4 linked regions of the Homo sapiens genome follow. The protein of the gene in region 4 purifies or fractionates together with the protein of the main gene of each other region. This does not show direct contact. Each region holds a gene or a part of one and is shown on either strand. Other genes may lie near its edges.

Region 1 (3,500 bases), on a different chromosome or scaffold from region 4:
CTACTTTGTTTGTTTTGAGATGCAGTTTCACTCTTGTTGCCCAAGCTGGAGTGCAATGGCACGATCTCGGCTCACTGCAGCCTCCACCTCCCGGGTTCAAGCAATTCTCCCTGCCTCAGCCTCCCAAGTAGTTGGGATTACAGGCATGCACCACCAGGCCCAGCTAATTTTTTGTATTTTTAGTAGAGACAGGGTTTCGTCATGTTGGCCAGTCTGGTCTCGAACTCCTGGCCTCAGGTGATCTGCCCACCTCAGTCTCCCAAAGTGCTGGGATTAGAGACATCAGCCATCATGCCCAGCCTCAGCTATCTACTTTCATGTTCTACAGGCAAAAGAGCCTTAACTTAACTGTTAAATTTTTATTCAACTGCATGTTACAATGACTATTCAAGCTCATAGACTAAGATTTCAGAGAGGGATGCCTTTCATCTGCCCCTCATGGTCACCATTTTCAGCTGTGACATGGGATTTGATAAATATGAATTATACCCATACACAGAGCTGCACCCTAAACAAGGCTTGGTTTCCCTCTGCTCCCTGGGACTGATGTTATGTCTATTTGACAAACATTCTGAATGGTCACAGAAAAACTATTCTTTACATGATTCTTTAAACCCACTCCCACCCGAAAAGAGATTAAAATCTGCTTGTGCTAAATCATCAGTGTTGGATTAGCTAACTATTATAAACCAACAAATTCCTCAACTCCTTATTGCAATCCTGAAAGAACACTTAAAAGCCAGAACTGAAGACAGATTATATTTCTTTCTTTCCTTTTTTTTTTTTTTTTTGAGACAGAGTTTTGCTTTGTTGCCCAGGCTGGAGGGCAGTGGCACAATCTCAGCTCACTGCAACCTCCGACTCCCAGGTTCAGGCAATTCTTGTGCCTCAGTCTCCTGAGTAGCTGGCATTACAGGCACCCACCACCACACCCAGCTGATTTTTTGTATTTGTGTACAGACGGGGTTTCACCATGTTGCCTAGGCTGGTCTCAAACTCCTGAGCTCAGGCAACCTGCCCGTCCCAGCCTCCGAAAGTGTTAAGATTACAGGCATAAGCCACCACACCCGGCCGACAGATTATATTTCTATAGCTTCATCAATCTACTAGTCTCAATATCAATGTACATAAACTGGAGAAAATTCTAAGGCAGACCTTTTTACTTACAGGGCTCAATGAGTGGAAAAATAATTATAACTCTACCTTCTATCAGAAACCTATTCTGAGCCACGTCTTATTGCCATTCCCAGGCCACAAACATTTTCCAAACTAATCTGGATTCTACATAAGTTTCTTGAAAAATAGTAACATTTTACTGCCCTATGATCTCTTTACCTCATTTATGTACAGTTAACAATCTAGAAAAAGGAAACTGACAAAACAGCAAAAGCAGAATAACCAAAACCTGGAAGCCACCAAGATGTCCTGCAATAGGTGAATGGGTAAACAAATTGATATATCCACACAATGGAACATTATCCGTCAATTAAAGAAATGACCTATCAAGTCACAAAACGACATGAATGAATCTTAAATGCATCTTGCTAAGTGAAAGAAGCCAGTCTGAAAAGGGCTACATACTGTATGATTTTAATTATGTGATATTCTGGAAAAATGCAAAACTGCAGGGATGGTATAATAAAAAGATCAGTAGTTGCCAGGGGGAAGTGGGGGAAGTTGAACAGGTAAGGCACAAGAGATTGTTTAGGACAATGAAACTATTCTGTTTAATACTGTAATGACAGATACATGATGCTATGTATTTGTCAAAACCCACAGAATTTTACAGCACAAAGAGTGAGCCTTAGTGTTTGCAAATTTTTAAAAATCATTTAGGAGGTTAGAAGATCCCAGGATGGAATGCAGAATGTGATAAAACAAATTAATTGTATTATGAATATATGAAACAAGTCAATGAAGGAAATGGGAGACCTAAATAACTCTAGAAATGAATGGAGTCAGATGAAAGGCAAAAGAAACAGTACGTAAGCACCACATTCTGTTTGATAGTCTCCCACAGGAATGGCGATACAAGTTAATAATTCTGATACCACTATACATGTATACTGGAATTGAATAATTATGTAAAGAATGAATGACAATAGGAGACAGGTTTCTCACTGTTGGAGTGAGAAGTAACAGACAAGCAAAAGGAGAAGGCTAGAAGGATCCATGTGGTAATGGATTAAAGTTGGAGACATCAGTATGAACTCATACTTAGTATAGTACAATATACATAGTTACATATAGAAATATTTAAATATGTATATATATGCTGGTTAAATATACACACATATATTTTCTTTTCTGTGAACTCTGCAGAGAAGTATACACATTTTCTTGCTGTCAGCTATAAGGGTGACACCCAGGAGCAATGAGCATCCCTAGTGAAGAAGAAAGAAAGGAGAAGGGGGGAGGAGGGAGGGGGAGAGGGAGGGGGTGGAGGGAGGAGGAGGGAGGAGGAGGAGGAGGAGAAGCAGCAGCAGCAGCAGTAGTAGTAGTAGTAGTGGTAGTAGTAAGCATCTTTCAGTGTGAGAAAGTACCTAAGTACTAAAAAAAAAAAAAAATAAAATCCACAATGATTGGAGTATGTCAAAGGGACATGAGATCCAAGTGAAAGATTGGAGACTAGCCAAAACTGAAATAATTTGAGTACCAAAATAAAGTAATATTGAATTATAAGCCAAAGTATAAAATAAATACCCATGAGTACATGCTGATATAAATAAATGACTGAATAAATAAACAAATGGGGGAGAAGAGAGGAATCTCTGGCATAAAAGAATTCCAAGTAATGTCTGAAGATGCTGTGTCCTCAAGGAGAGGGGACATAACTTCTCACTCCCTGGGTGTGGGCTGCACATAGTGATTTCCTTCCAAAGAGTACATATGTAAAGGGGAAGAAAGAGTCACTTTACAGAGGAGAAACTAGATATATCCTACTTTAGCCAGGTGATCAAGGTGAACATCAAAAGTTATAAACCATGGTGATAATATATACACTTGACACAAGGTGATGAAAATGGTACTTTACCTCTGTTGTCTTCCACCCCCAAACATATAACCCCAGTCTAATCATGATTTAAACATCAAGTACCAACTGAGAGACATTCTACAAAATACCTGACCAGTATTCATCAAAATGTCTAGGTCATCAAAAACAAGGAAGGTCTGAGAAACTGTAAGAGCCAAGCAGAGAAATGACTACCAAATATGATGTGATATGCTGGACAGGATCCTGAAACAAGGGCATCCGGGTAAAAACTAAGGCAATCTGAATAAAATATGGACTTTGTTTAATGATAATGCATCAACATTGGTTCAATAATTATAACAAGTATACCATACAAATGTAAGACGTTAATAACGGGGAAAAATGTGTAGAAAAAAATAATATGAATTGCTAATAAGGGTCATCTTCAAGTGCACGGAAGATTATAAACTGCCTATTTGAACTTCTAACAAATCAACAATTTCTGCTAAAAGAAAAAAGATTTTCA
Region 2 (3,500 bases), on a different chromosome or scaffold from region 4:
TGTTTGTTTGTTTTAAGTATTCTTTGTAAGCTCTTGCTTACCACAGTTATGGGAACAAAGCACTAAGGACTGATTGGCAAAGTAGCAAAAGCAGTCAGCCTTATTGTAAAATCATGTCAACGTCTAGTTTTTAAACTTTTTTTTTTTTTTTTTTTTTGAGACAGAGTCTTGCTCTGTTGCCCATGCTGGAGTGCAATGGCGTGATCTCAGCTAACTGCAAGCTCCGCTTCCCGAGTTCATGCCATTCTCCTGCCTCAGCCTCCCAAGTAGCTGGGACTACAGGCACCCGCCACCATGCCCGGCTAATTTTTTTTGTACTTTTAGTAGGGACGGGGTTTCACCGTGTTAGCCAGGATGGTCTCGATCTCCTGACCTTGTGATCCGCCCACCTCAGCCTCCCAAAGTGCTGGGATTACAGGCGTGAGCCACCACACCCAGCCTAATTTTTATACTTTTATAGCTGCTGTCAGCATATTCCTTATGCTAATCACAAATAAAACTTGGACCCTTTATTTGTATTTGATATTCCTTATTATGGAAATATAGTTGGGAATTAGTGCCATATACAGATGCTATAGAAACACACTACAATGTAAGCCAAAAATAAATGTTTATAGAATGTACTGATAAACAAAGCTGCTAAAAAGATAAGGAAATACGGTCCCTCCAAATAGTGTTACATACTGTGTTTGCCTCATATTAGAGAGGTACTTTACAAAACTTTATAGTTTTACAATATATCTGTATTTATGAACCTTATAGGAATCTCATCACAATCCCATAATGTAGACTAGGCAAGAATTATTAACACTTTACTCACTGCGAAATCTCAACTTCAGAATGAGTGTCTGACTTGCTTTAATATATGATGAATAAGTGGTAGAGCCCAGAATAAAAATATGGGTTTCCCAATTCCTGGTGATTCTACTATTTTTAACATATACATACTTACACTTCCTCAAACAGAGTTGTAGCTCAGCCCTCTTTATATCTAGTGTAATGACAAAATGAGTACCATCATTATGCCCAAGTGTTACCTACCCCCACTGACCACTGATGACCACGTTCCCCCCGAGGGACTGGTCCTTGCTACTGGAGGAGTAGCTGCTTCACTGGGTGGGTTGTGGGATACAAATTCTAGGCCACTGGATATGGAACCCCTCCCAGCAGAAACTCTGTGATTTCGAGGATGTCGCTGGGCCTTTGGGGACATCCTTGGAGGCCCTAAGGAAGAAACAGTGAACATCACATAAATTCCATGATATTCATCAGTACTACTTTTCTGCTAAATACACCCATTCACACACACATGCACACACACTCACTCACTCTACAGTTTTTCCTTGGTTAAAAATAGAAAAAAAAAAAACACCATACATATTTTTTTGGCCATACTAATTCTTTCAGAATTATTTTGTGGAATGCCACAAAGTTTTATAAATAAATTTTATTATTTCCCTTTATTTTTAAAGAAAGGGAGGGATGAAGTTGGTGGTAAGAAATCAACAATAAGATGTCAACTCTTAAAAGAACTGTAGCAATCTGTTTCAACTATGTCTTATTTGTAAAGAAATATGTTACTAGAAATTATGACTACATGATAAAATATTTTTAACTTTCCATATATTTTACCTTTCCCTGACCCGAATTTTCTACATTACTTCTAAAATTAGAAAAAAAAAATTTAAACAGAAGACTATTAATCCCTATACACCCCGATACCACTAAAACATATGTACATACCCTTCTTAAATTTCTCTAAAATTTTAGTTTATTTATCTCTTCTATCATGATCATCAATTTTAAAACTCGGCTTAAAACAGTAAGCAGTAACCTGTAAGCAGTTTCTTAGGCTTAGCAGGCTGTGAGCTGAAAATTCTATTAAAGGGATGACTTGTATTAGTCTATTAATAGATGACCAAAATAACTGACATTTGGGGGAGAAATCAGCACTATATGAATTGTCAAAATTCTACATTATTGATTCTGCCATGCCACTAGTGACTACTCTTTCTAAATCAGTCTACTGTGCATTAGACCAATCTATCAGGTAAAAGAGTGGACAGAATGGCCCTCATCAGAGAAGCCTACTGGTGTTAACACCAAGCGAAAACTTCCCTAATGTCAAAGCCAAATCTCCTCACTCTCTCACCCGGCTGCCAAACTCTTTAGAACTTCAAATTAATATATGTTGCCAATAGAATTATTATTTTATTTTTATTTTTATAAGACAGAGTCTGTCTCTGTCGCCCAGGCTGGAGTGCAGTGGTACGATCTCAACTCACTGCAACCTCTGCCTCCCAGGTTCAAGTGATTCTCCTGCCTCAGCCTCCCAAGTAGCTGGGTATTTTTAGTAGAGACGAGGTTTCACCATGTTGGCCAGGCTGGTCTCAAACTCCTGACCTCAAGTGATCCACCTGCCTCAGCCTCCCAAAGTGCTGAGATTACAGGCGTTAGCCACCATGCCTGGCTTCCAACAGGAATTTAAACACGAACATGATCTTTAGAAGAATGCTAATGTTATACACTATAATTTTCAAATGGAAATATTCAACATCTCTGAATGACACAGAAAGTATATTTCTGTGTGAAGTTAATACATGAGCAGTCCTTAAATCTTAATGTAATAAAGATGTTCACAGTCATTAATGATCATGTTTTATTTAATATATTCTCATTAAATAAACATCGCTTACTCAAATGATGGACTACAAGAAAAATATCAACAGAATTTTGCATTTAGTGACCACTATTAAGGCCCTTTTGAGCAAAGAAGTCACCTTGAAAATCAGTGGAACTTGCTCTTCAAGGTTAGATGCTTCAGTCAAAGTCATATGACCTGCCTGCTTAGATGGTAACAATTTATTTAAAAGTAGCCAATACAGTTTTCTCCAGGGAAGCAGGAGAAACACATTTTGTGCGGAAAACTTTATTAGTCCCAACATAAGCAATATTAACTAATTTTAATGAACAAATCAGATTAAAATTTTAACACAAATATTCAGAACTAGTATCAAAAGGACATTATGATTCAGAAAACAGGTTTTTAATATATGGGTGGCATTTAAATTAGAATGTTACCTTTCTACAACATATCCCTGTATTTGATATGTGGCAATGATGGATTTAGCGCCAAATACTGAATAAGAATTACAAGATTTTATTCTTATTTTTGACGAGGAAAGAAATAGCTAAATATTCAAATTCATATGTCGTTTTTATCAATTTTATCTCAGATCAAGGACTTCTTCCAGATTAAAGCAGCCTTTCACTATGTAAGATTGCAAAGCTAACTTTAAAAAAATTACTCAGTTAAATTTAGAATTCTTCTGGCATTCTAAAAATCAACTACTTTAATCTAAGGGCAGACACGCAAAGTCAGCTACATGGGCTGTCGCTCTCAAAAAAGACCCAGAAAACACCATCCCTGCTTATGGCCAATAGGAAGGTTCACTAGGACCTTGGCCAAAGAGCTGTAAAATGAACCTAAGTTCAAGACT
Region 3 (3,500 bases), on a different chromosome or scaffold from region 4:
GGCCTGCGACCGTTTCCTCAAGGTGTATGATTTGCGCATGATGCGTGCCATCACACCACTTCAAGTACATGTGGATCCTGCCTTCTTGCGCTTCATTCCTACATATACTTCTCGTCTTGCTATCATCTCTCAGTCAGGTATGAAGGGCATATGGGATTGGGTAGGAGGGATCGATGAGCAAAGGAGAGCTAGAACCCGAAGGAGTACTCATCCTGAAACCTCTTTGTTGGGGAAAGAAGTAACCTTTCATCAGGGTCCCAAGGTTTTACTTGGGTTTGGCCAGAGATTAGAGCTTTTATTTTCTTGAATATGAGGAACATGGAAAAAGGTAAAGATAAAGTAGGCAAAATAACTGTAGAATTGCTCTTTGCTGAGTAGCGAACCATCTGTGGTTTATGGAAGGCACGAAGTGGCATTCTGTCTCTAGGCATGGATTTGGGGCCCATCTTGTCCTGAAATCAGGGGAAGAGGATAGGAAGGGCATAAGAATATGGCTCCCTTTCACTTTCTAGGGCTCAGTGGGTTTCTTCCTCCTTTGTAGGGCAGTGCCAATTCTGTGAACCCACAGGCCTGGCCAACCCAGCCGATATCTTTCATGTGAATCCTGTGGGGCCTCTGCTAATGACATTTGATGTGTCAGCCAGCAAGCAGGCTCTGGCCTTTGGGGATTCTGAGGGCTGTGTGCACCTCTGGACTGATTCCCCGGAGCCTTCCTTCAACCCCTACTCCCGTGAGACTGAGTTTGCTTTGCCGTGTCTCGTGGACTCACTGCCTCCTCTGGACTGGAGCCAGGACCTGCTGCCTCTTTCCCTCATCCCTGTCCCACTCACCACTGACACACTTCTCTCTGATTGGCCTGCTGCCAACTCTGCTCCAGCTCCCAGGTTGTACCCTACCTCTGGGCCAAAAGGCGGGAGGGACAGGGAAAGGGCCAAGATACCAGAATTCTCTGCTAGCCCTGTTGTTATTCTACTACTTTCCTGATTTTTGTCTACCTTCAGTATTTTCTTTTTCTCTGGACCCTTGGGGATTGGGGAGTGGACCAGTGTACACCACAACTCTTTAAGTCCTAGAACTATGCTGGATTGTAGGCGAGCACCACCCGTGGATGCAGAGATTCTGCGCACCATGAAGAAGGTGGGCTTCATTGGCTATGCGCCCAATCCCCGCACCAGGCTGCGCAATCAGGTGTGTTCAGAGTGGAGGGTCAGCCCCGACCCCGGCCCACTGAAGTTTCTCCTATCTTTTTCCTTTACTAGTCTTTCTTTTGTTTTTAGATCCTGTTGGTAACCAACCAAATTGATGGAACTATGCTAGGTGTTAGGGAGGATTCAAAGATAGAGAAGCTAGGGTCCTTGCTGTTAGGAAGTTTAGTATTTGGTTGGTGAAGAGAAGACATAGCCATATCAGAAATTACGTTCTGTTGTTAAATGCTGAAGGAATGTCATAAGCATTTAGTGCCAGAGCTGTTTGGAGGAAAAATGTTATTCCAGGCTAAAGTGACCAAGGAAGGTGTAATGAAAGAGCTGGGTATTAAGCTGGAAAGGTGGGATATCAGTTAAGTAGATAGTAACAGAGGAGAATATCCAAGATGAGAGAAGAGTGTTAGTAAAGATCTCAAGAGGCATAAATGCAAAACACATATCTGAGGGGGACTACATGAGTATACCAGTCTGGCCGGAGTAGCTGTTGGTATTGGGATGTAGTGAGCGATTAAAATTAGAAGTGGCCAGATTGCGAAGCTTTGAACACCAGTCTATAATAGAGGAAGTAATACACAGAAAGCAGCATTCTGCAAGGGTTAATTTGGTAGTGGTGTGCTGGACAGAGTGAACATAGGGAGACCAGTGTGGACGCCATCACAGTTGTCCATCTGTGCTGAAGCAGAGTGATGGCAGTGGAAATAGAAAGGAAGCAGCGGATGCTGAGAGTGCTATGAATATAGAAGGTTCAGGACTTGGTGGCTGTTTCAATGTTGGGATAAATGAGTGTGAAGCCAAAGATGACAAGACATCCAACAAGGTTACCTCTTCCTAAAATCCCTAGATACCCTACAGACTCAAGGAGTCAGACAGTGAATTTGACAGCTTCAGCCAGGTCACTGAGTCACCAGTAGGACGAGAAGAGGAACCACATCTCCACATGGTTTCTAAGAAATACCGCAAGGTGCTGGGGGACATCAGGGCCTGTGGGATGTGGGGAAAGGTACCCTGGGAAGGAAGTCATATGAGAAAGGATTGAAGGACTCAGTCAGGAGGCCTTCAACTACCACCCTGGACCCAGGAGGAAGGCTCTAGGAAAGGCTGTGGCTACTGGAAAGATTTGGGGACTCTGAGAATATCCTTGTCTTGCTCAGACAATTTCTACCTTAGGTGACCATCAAATATTCCAAGCTAGGGCTGGAGGACTTTGACTTCAAACACTACAATAAGACCTTGTTTGCTGGATTAGAGCCCCACATTCCCAACGCCTACTGTAACTGCATGATCCAGGTAAGGGTTGGGTATTCCTGTAACTTGAACGTGCCTGCTGCTTTTCTTCTTCCCTATGGCTCTCGACCCTGCTCTTTCCAGGTCTCCTCAGCCGTGTTCTCTTTACCATGGTCTCCTCTACAATTCTTTCTTGCCTCTACAACTTTCAAGTCTCCTCTGAGCTCCACCGGTTTGGTGGACTCACTGCTTCGGTGGACTCCTGCTTCTGGGACATTTTCTCCACCAGCTCACTTAACCTCCATATTTCTCCTCACCCCCAGGCCAGTTTCCTACATCAGTTCTTCTGCTTTTCCCTCCAGGTGCTCTATTTCCTGGAGCCTGTACGCTGTCTAATTCAAAACCACCTTTGCCAGAAGGAGTTCTGTCTGGCATGTGAGCTGGGCTTCCTGTTTCACATGTTGGACCTCTCTCGTGGTGACCCTTGCCAGGTCAGTACTTGGAGACACTTAAAATGGAAGGGGAAGGAAGGTGGACACAAAAGACAAAATAACCCCTTTCCACCAACACATTTCCAGGGCAATAATTTTCTTCGGGCATTCCGTACTATTCCTGAGGCCTCAGCCCTCGGTCTAATCCTGGCTGACTCAGATGAGGCCTCAGGCAAGGGCAATCTGGCCAGGCTCATTCAGAGGTGGAATCGCTTCATTCTCACTCAACTGCATCAAGATATGCAGGAGCTGGAAATACCACAGGCTTATCGAGGTGCTGGAGGCAGGTATGAAATCAGGATAGAAATAGTTAAAGCCATCATGACAGGCCCCTCTGTGATTTAAAAGGTCTCCTAACTTCCTCAATGTGCATATATCATCCTCTCCACTCTTAGCAGCTTTTGCTCATCGGGGGACTCTGTTATTGGGCAGCTCTTCAGCTGTGAGATGGAGAACTGCAGCCTCTGCCGCTGTGGCAGTGAGACCGTGCGAGCCTCATCCACTCTGCTTTTCACACTCTCCTACCCTGATGGTAGCAAAAGTGGTATACCCTTCAGCTCAGTTGGGAAGGCTCCCCAAA
Region 4 (3,500 bases):
CTAAGACTACAGGTGCATGCCACCACATCCAGCTAATTTAAAAAATTTTTTGTAGAGATGAGGTCTTGCTGTGTTGCCCAGGCTGGTCTGAACTCTTAGGCTCAAGTGATCATCTTGCCTCAGCCTCCTAAAGTGCTGGGATTACAAGTGTGAGCCACTGTGCCTAGCCTGGAAAGTCTTAACCCATAGGAACTTACTGATCACGAATGAATTCATTAAGATTACCATATGGCGAATATAAGAGTTAATACCTGAGACTTCACTTTTTGCACAGGTTACTAAAACCTGACTAGGCAAGAACAAGCTGCTAATTGCCCAAGAGCCACACACCCAAGGAAGCATAAACATATTTTCTTAGTTGCAGCAGCCTTCCTTAAAGAAAATGTGTCAAGGCTCCCAAAACCTATTGGGGAATTACTAGTATGAACACCCACTTTTGGTGATCACTATTAAAGTGGAAAGCAAATGAATCTCAACAAAAGCCCAAAAGAACAATGGTTAAAATCCTTATCCATTTCTTTCTGCAGAAATCCTATGCAGAAACAACTATGCATTCTGATGGACCTTCTGACATTATGTAGAATTTCACATAAGTCACATTTATGGAAGGGGGATTAAAAGGGAAATATTCCTGGGCGGGCGTGGTGGCTCACGCCTGTAATCCCAGCACTTTGGGAGGGTGAGACGGGCAGATCACCTGAGGTCAGAAGTTTGAGACCAGCCTAACATGGAGAAACCCCATCTATACTAAAAATACAAAAAATTAGCCGGGCATGGTGGCGTGCGCCTGTAGTCCCAGCTACTCGGGAGGCTAAGGCAGGAGAATCGCTTGAACCCGGGAGGCAGAGGTTGTGGTGAGCCAAGATCACGCCATTGCACTCCAGCCTGGGCAACAGGAACAAAACTCCCTCTGAAAACAAAACAAAACCGAACAGGCAGGGGCCGGGTGCAGTGGCTCACGTCTGTAACCCCAGCACTTTAGGAGACCAAGGTGGGCAGATCACTTGAGGTCAGGAGTTTGAGACCATCCTGGCCAACATGGCGAAATCGTCTCTACTAAAAAAAAGAAAATCAGCTGGGCATGGTGGCACACACCTGTAATCCCAACTACTCAGGAGGCTGAGGCAGGAGAATCACTTCAACCTGGGAGGTGGAGGTTGCAGTGAGCCAAGATCGTGCAAGACTCTGTCTCAACAATAACAAAAAAGGAACGGGTAGGAAAAAGCAGTCAGAAGCTATTCTCTATGGTCTTGCCAGCCAGCCTGCTCTAACAACTTCCAGTAAGATAGGTTTTCTGGACAGTTGACACATTAAGATTGAATAATTTTTTTTTCCTTTGAGACAGAGTCTCACTCTGTTGCCCATGCTGGAGTGCAATGGTGCAGTCATAGCTCACTGCAAGCTCAACTTCCCAAGCTCAAGTGATCCTCCCACGTTAGCCTCTTGAGTATCTGGGACCACAGGTGCACACCACCACCTCTGGCAATTTTTTTTTTTTTTAACGAGATGGGGTCTCACTATATTGCCCAGTCTGGTCGTGAACTCCTGGACTCAATTCATCCTCCCACCTTGTCCTCCCAATGACTTTTCATACCATAATTCTACCTTCTCCAACATAAATAGGTATCCTTAAATTAGTTTAAGAAGTTTATACCTAAATTTGTCACAGAAATGCCACCTGAGTTACTACTCAGTTTATAAAAGATACATTTAGTTATCAAATAAGATTTCTGTACTGGAAAAAGGGACCACCTGATTCCTGTTTCAACCTAGGATTTAAATCAGTTACTCTTTTCTCTGGGGATTGGCTTCAAGTCTTCTGATTATATCCAAGAAGGCTAGGATGACTCAAGTCAGTCACTTCAACTGCTTGTCCATTTTCCTGATTGTTTTAAAGGAAAGACAAACATGGCTGTACTGACTGCTATGACCAATTGGCCTACCAGCCACAAATTAGGATGGCCTCCCTTAAAGATCCCTGGAGACACTAATGACTACAATAATGCCACTTTGTAACTAGTCAAGGTTATGAGGAGTCCACATGGGGCCAGATGCAGTGGCTCACACCTGGAATTCCAGCACTTTAGGAGGCTGAGGCAGGAGGATCGCTTGAGGTCAGGAGTTGGAGACCAGCCTGGGCAACATAATGAGATCCTATCTCTACAAAGAAATGAAAAAATTAGCCATGTGTGGTGACACACACCTGTAGTCCTAGCTACTCAGGAGGCTGAGGTGGAAGGATCGCATGAATGCAGAGTTCGAGGCTGCAGTGAGTTAACTGTACCACTGCACTCCAGCCTGGATAACAGTGAGAGCCTGTCTCAAAAAAAAAAAAAAAAATTCCACATGAAGTTAAACTAAGATAATTCAACATTCACTTAACTTTAATACGCATGTTTAACACTGGTCAGTATCAAGCTGAATGTTCTGAGTGTCTCTGCTTTTATTCCCTGTCCAACTGGCAGGTGACAGTCATTTAATAAGGAATCAGTGGCAAAACACAGGAGCAAAGGAAGAACAGCATAACGTATGTATCCTTTATAAGATTAGTCTATTTGGCCGGGTGCGGTAGCTCACGCCTGTAATCCCAGCACTTTGGCAGGCCACGGCAGGTGGATCACTTGAGGTCAGGAGTTTGAGACCAACCTTACCAATATGGTGAAACCCCGTTTCTAATAAAAATACAAAAATTAGCTGGGCATCATGGCACGTGCCTGTAATCCCAGCTACTCAGGAGGCTGAGGCAGGAGAATTGCTTGAACCTGGGAAGCAGAGGTTGCAGTGAGCCAAGATTGCAACACTGCACTCCAGCCTGGGTGACAGAGTGAGACGCGGTCTCAAAAACAAACAAAAAAAAACAGATTAGTCTATTCACTTGACGAAAATAACATGGATGTGAGGCCAGGCGTGGTGGCTCACGCCTGTAATCAGAGCACTTTAGGAGGCCAAGGTGGGTGGATCATGAGATCAGGAGATCGAGACCATCCTGGCCAACATGGTGAAACCCCATCTCTACTAAAATGTAAAAAAAATTAGCTGGGCATGGAGGCACGCGCCTGTAGTCCCAGCTACTCAAGAGGCTGAGGTAGGGAAATTGCTTGAACCCGGGAGGCAGAGGTTGCAGTGAGCCGACATAGGGCCACTGCACTCCAGCCTGGCGACAGACAGAGACTCTGTCTCAAAACAAAAAAACAGAAAAGAAAACCACATGGATCTGAATAGTGGGATGGCCTAAAACATTTCTATTTTGTATTTCAAGCAGAAGATGGCATCACTAACAGAATAGCAGGTACTATATTCCAGAACTGGTGAACAAGGGCTTCTGGTGAAGAAAAAGTTGAATGAGCACCACTGCCAGGAGACGATCTTTTTTTTTTTTTTTTTTTTTTGAGACAGGGTCTCTTTTTGTTGCACAGGCTGTAGTGAAATGGCGCGATGATGGCTCACTGCAGCCTCAAACGATTCTCTCACCTCAGTCCCCTGTGTAGCTGAGACTACAG

The links. Proteins that work in one complex are often made in the same cells at the same time.
Region 1: the proteins of EIF4ENIF1 (region 4) and EDC3 fractionate together in Homo sapiens (co-fractionation; one large-scale study listed by IntAct). This does not show direct contact.
Region 2: the proteins of EIF4ENIF1 (region 4) and ATXN2 fractionate together in Homo sapiens (co-fractionation; one large-scale study listed by IntAct). This does not show direct contact.
Region 3: the proteins of EIF4ENIF1 (region 4) and PAN2 purify together in Homo sapiens (affinity purification with mass spectrometry, with the first as the bait; one large-scale study listed by BioGRID). This does not show direct contact.

Annotation. Positions count from the first base shown.
Region 1 is NC_000015.10:74,665,025-74,668,524, forward strand, and holds part of EDC3 (enhancer of mRNA-decapping protein 3), read right to left. Parts: intron 1-3,500. UniProt on the Homo sapiens protein: Binds single-stranded RNA. Involved in the process of mRNA degradation and in the positive regulation of mRNA decapping. May play a role in spermiogenesis and oogenesis.
Region 2 is NC_000012.12:111,512,316-111,515,815, forward strand, and holds part of ATXN2 (ataxin-2), read right to left. Parts: intron 1,225-3,500; coding exon 1,042-1,224; intron 1-1,041. UniProt on the Homo sapiens protein: Involved in EGFR trafficking, acting as negative regulator of endocytic EGFR internalization at the plasma membrane.
Region 3 is NC_000012.12:56,324,001-56,327,500, reverse strand, and holds part of PAN2 (PAN2-PAN3 deadenylation complex catalytic subunit PAN2), read left to right. Parts: coding exon 1-137; intron 138-541; coding exon 542-884; intron 885-1,091; coding exon 1,092-1,188; intron 1,189-2,046; coding exon 2,047-2,166; intron 2,167-2,372; coding exon 2,373-2,492; intron 2,493-2,791; coding exon 2,792-2,920; intron 2,921-3,007; coding exon 3,008-3,207; intron 3,208-3,315; coding exon 3,316-3,452; coding exon of another isoform or gene 3,453-3,464; intron 3,465-3,500. UniProt on the Homo sapiens protein: Catalytic subunit of the poly(A)-nuclease (PAN) deadenylation complex, one of two cytoplasmic mRNA deadenylases involved in general and miRNA-mediated mRNA turnover.
Region 4 is NC_000022.11:31,479,843-31,483,342, forward strand, and holds part of EIF4ENIF1 (eukaryotic translation initiation factor 4E transporter), read right to left. Parts: intron 1-3,500. UniProt on the Homo sapiens protein: EIF4E-binding protein that regulates translation and stability of mRNAs in processing bodies (P-bodies). Plays a key role in P-bodies to coordinate the storage of translationally inactive mRNAs in the cytoplasm and prevent their degradation.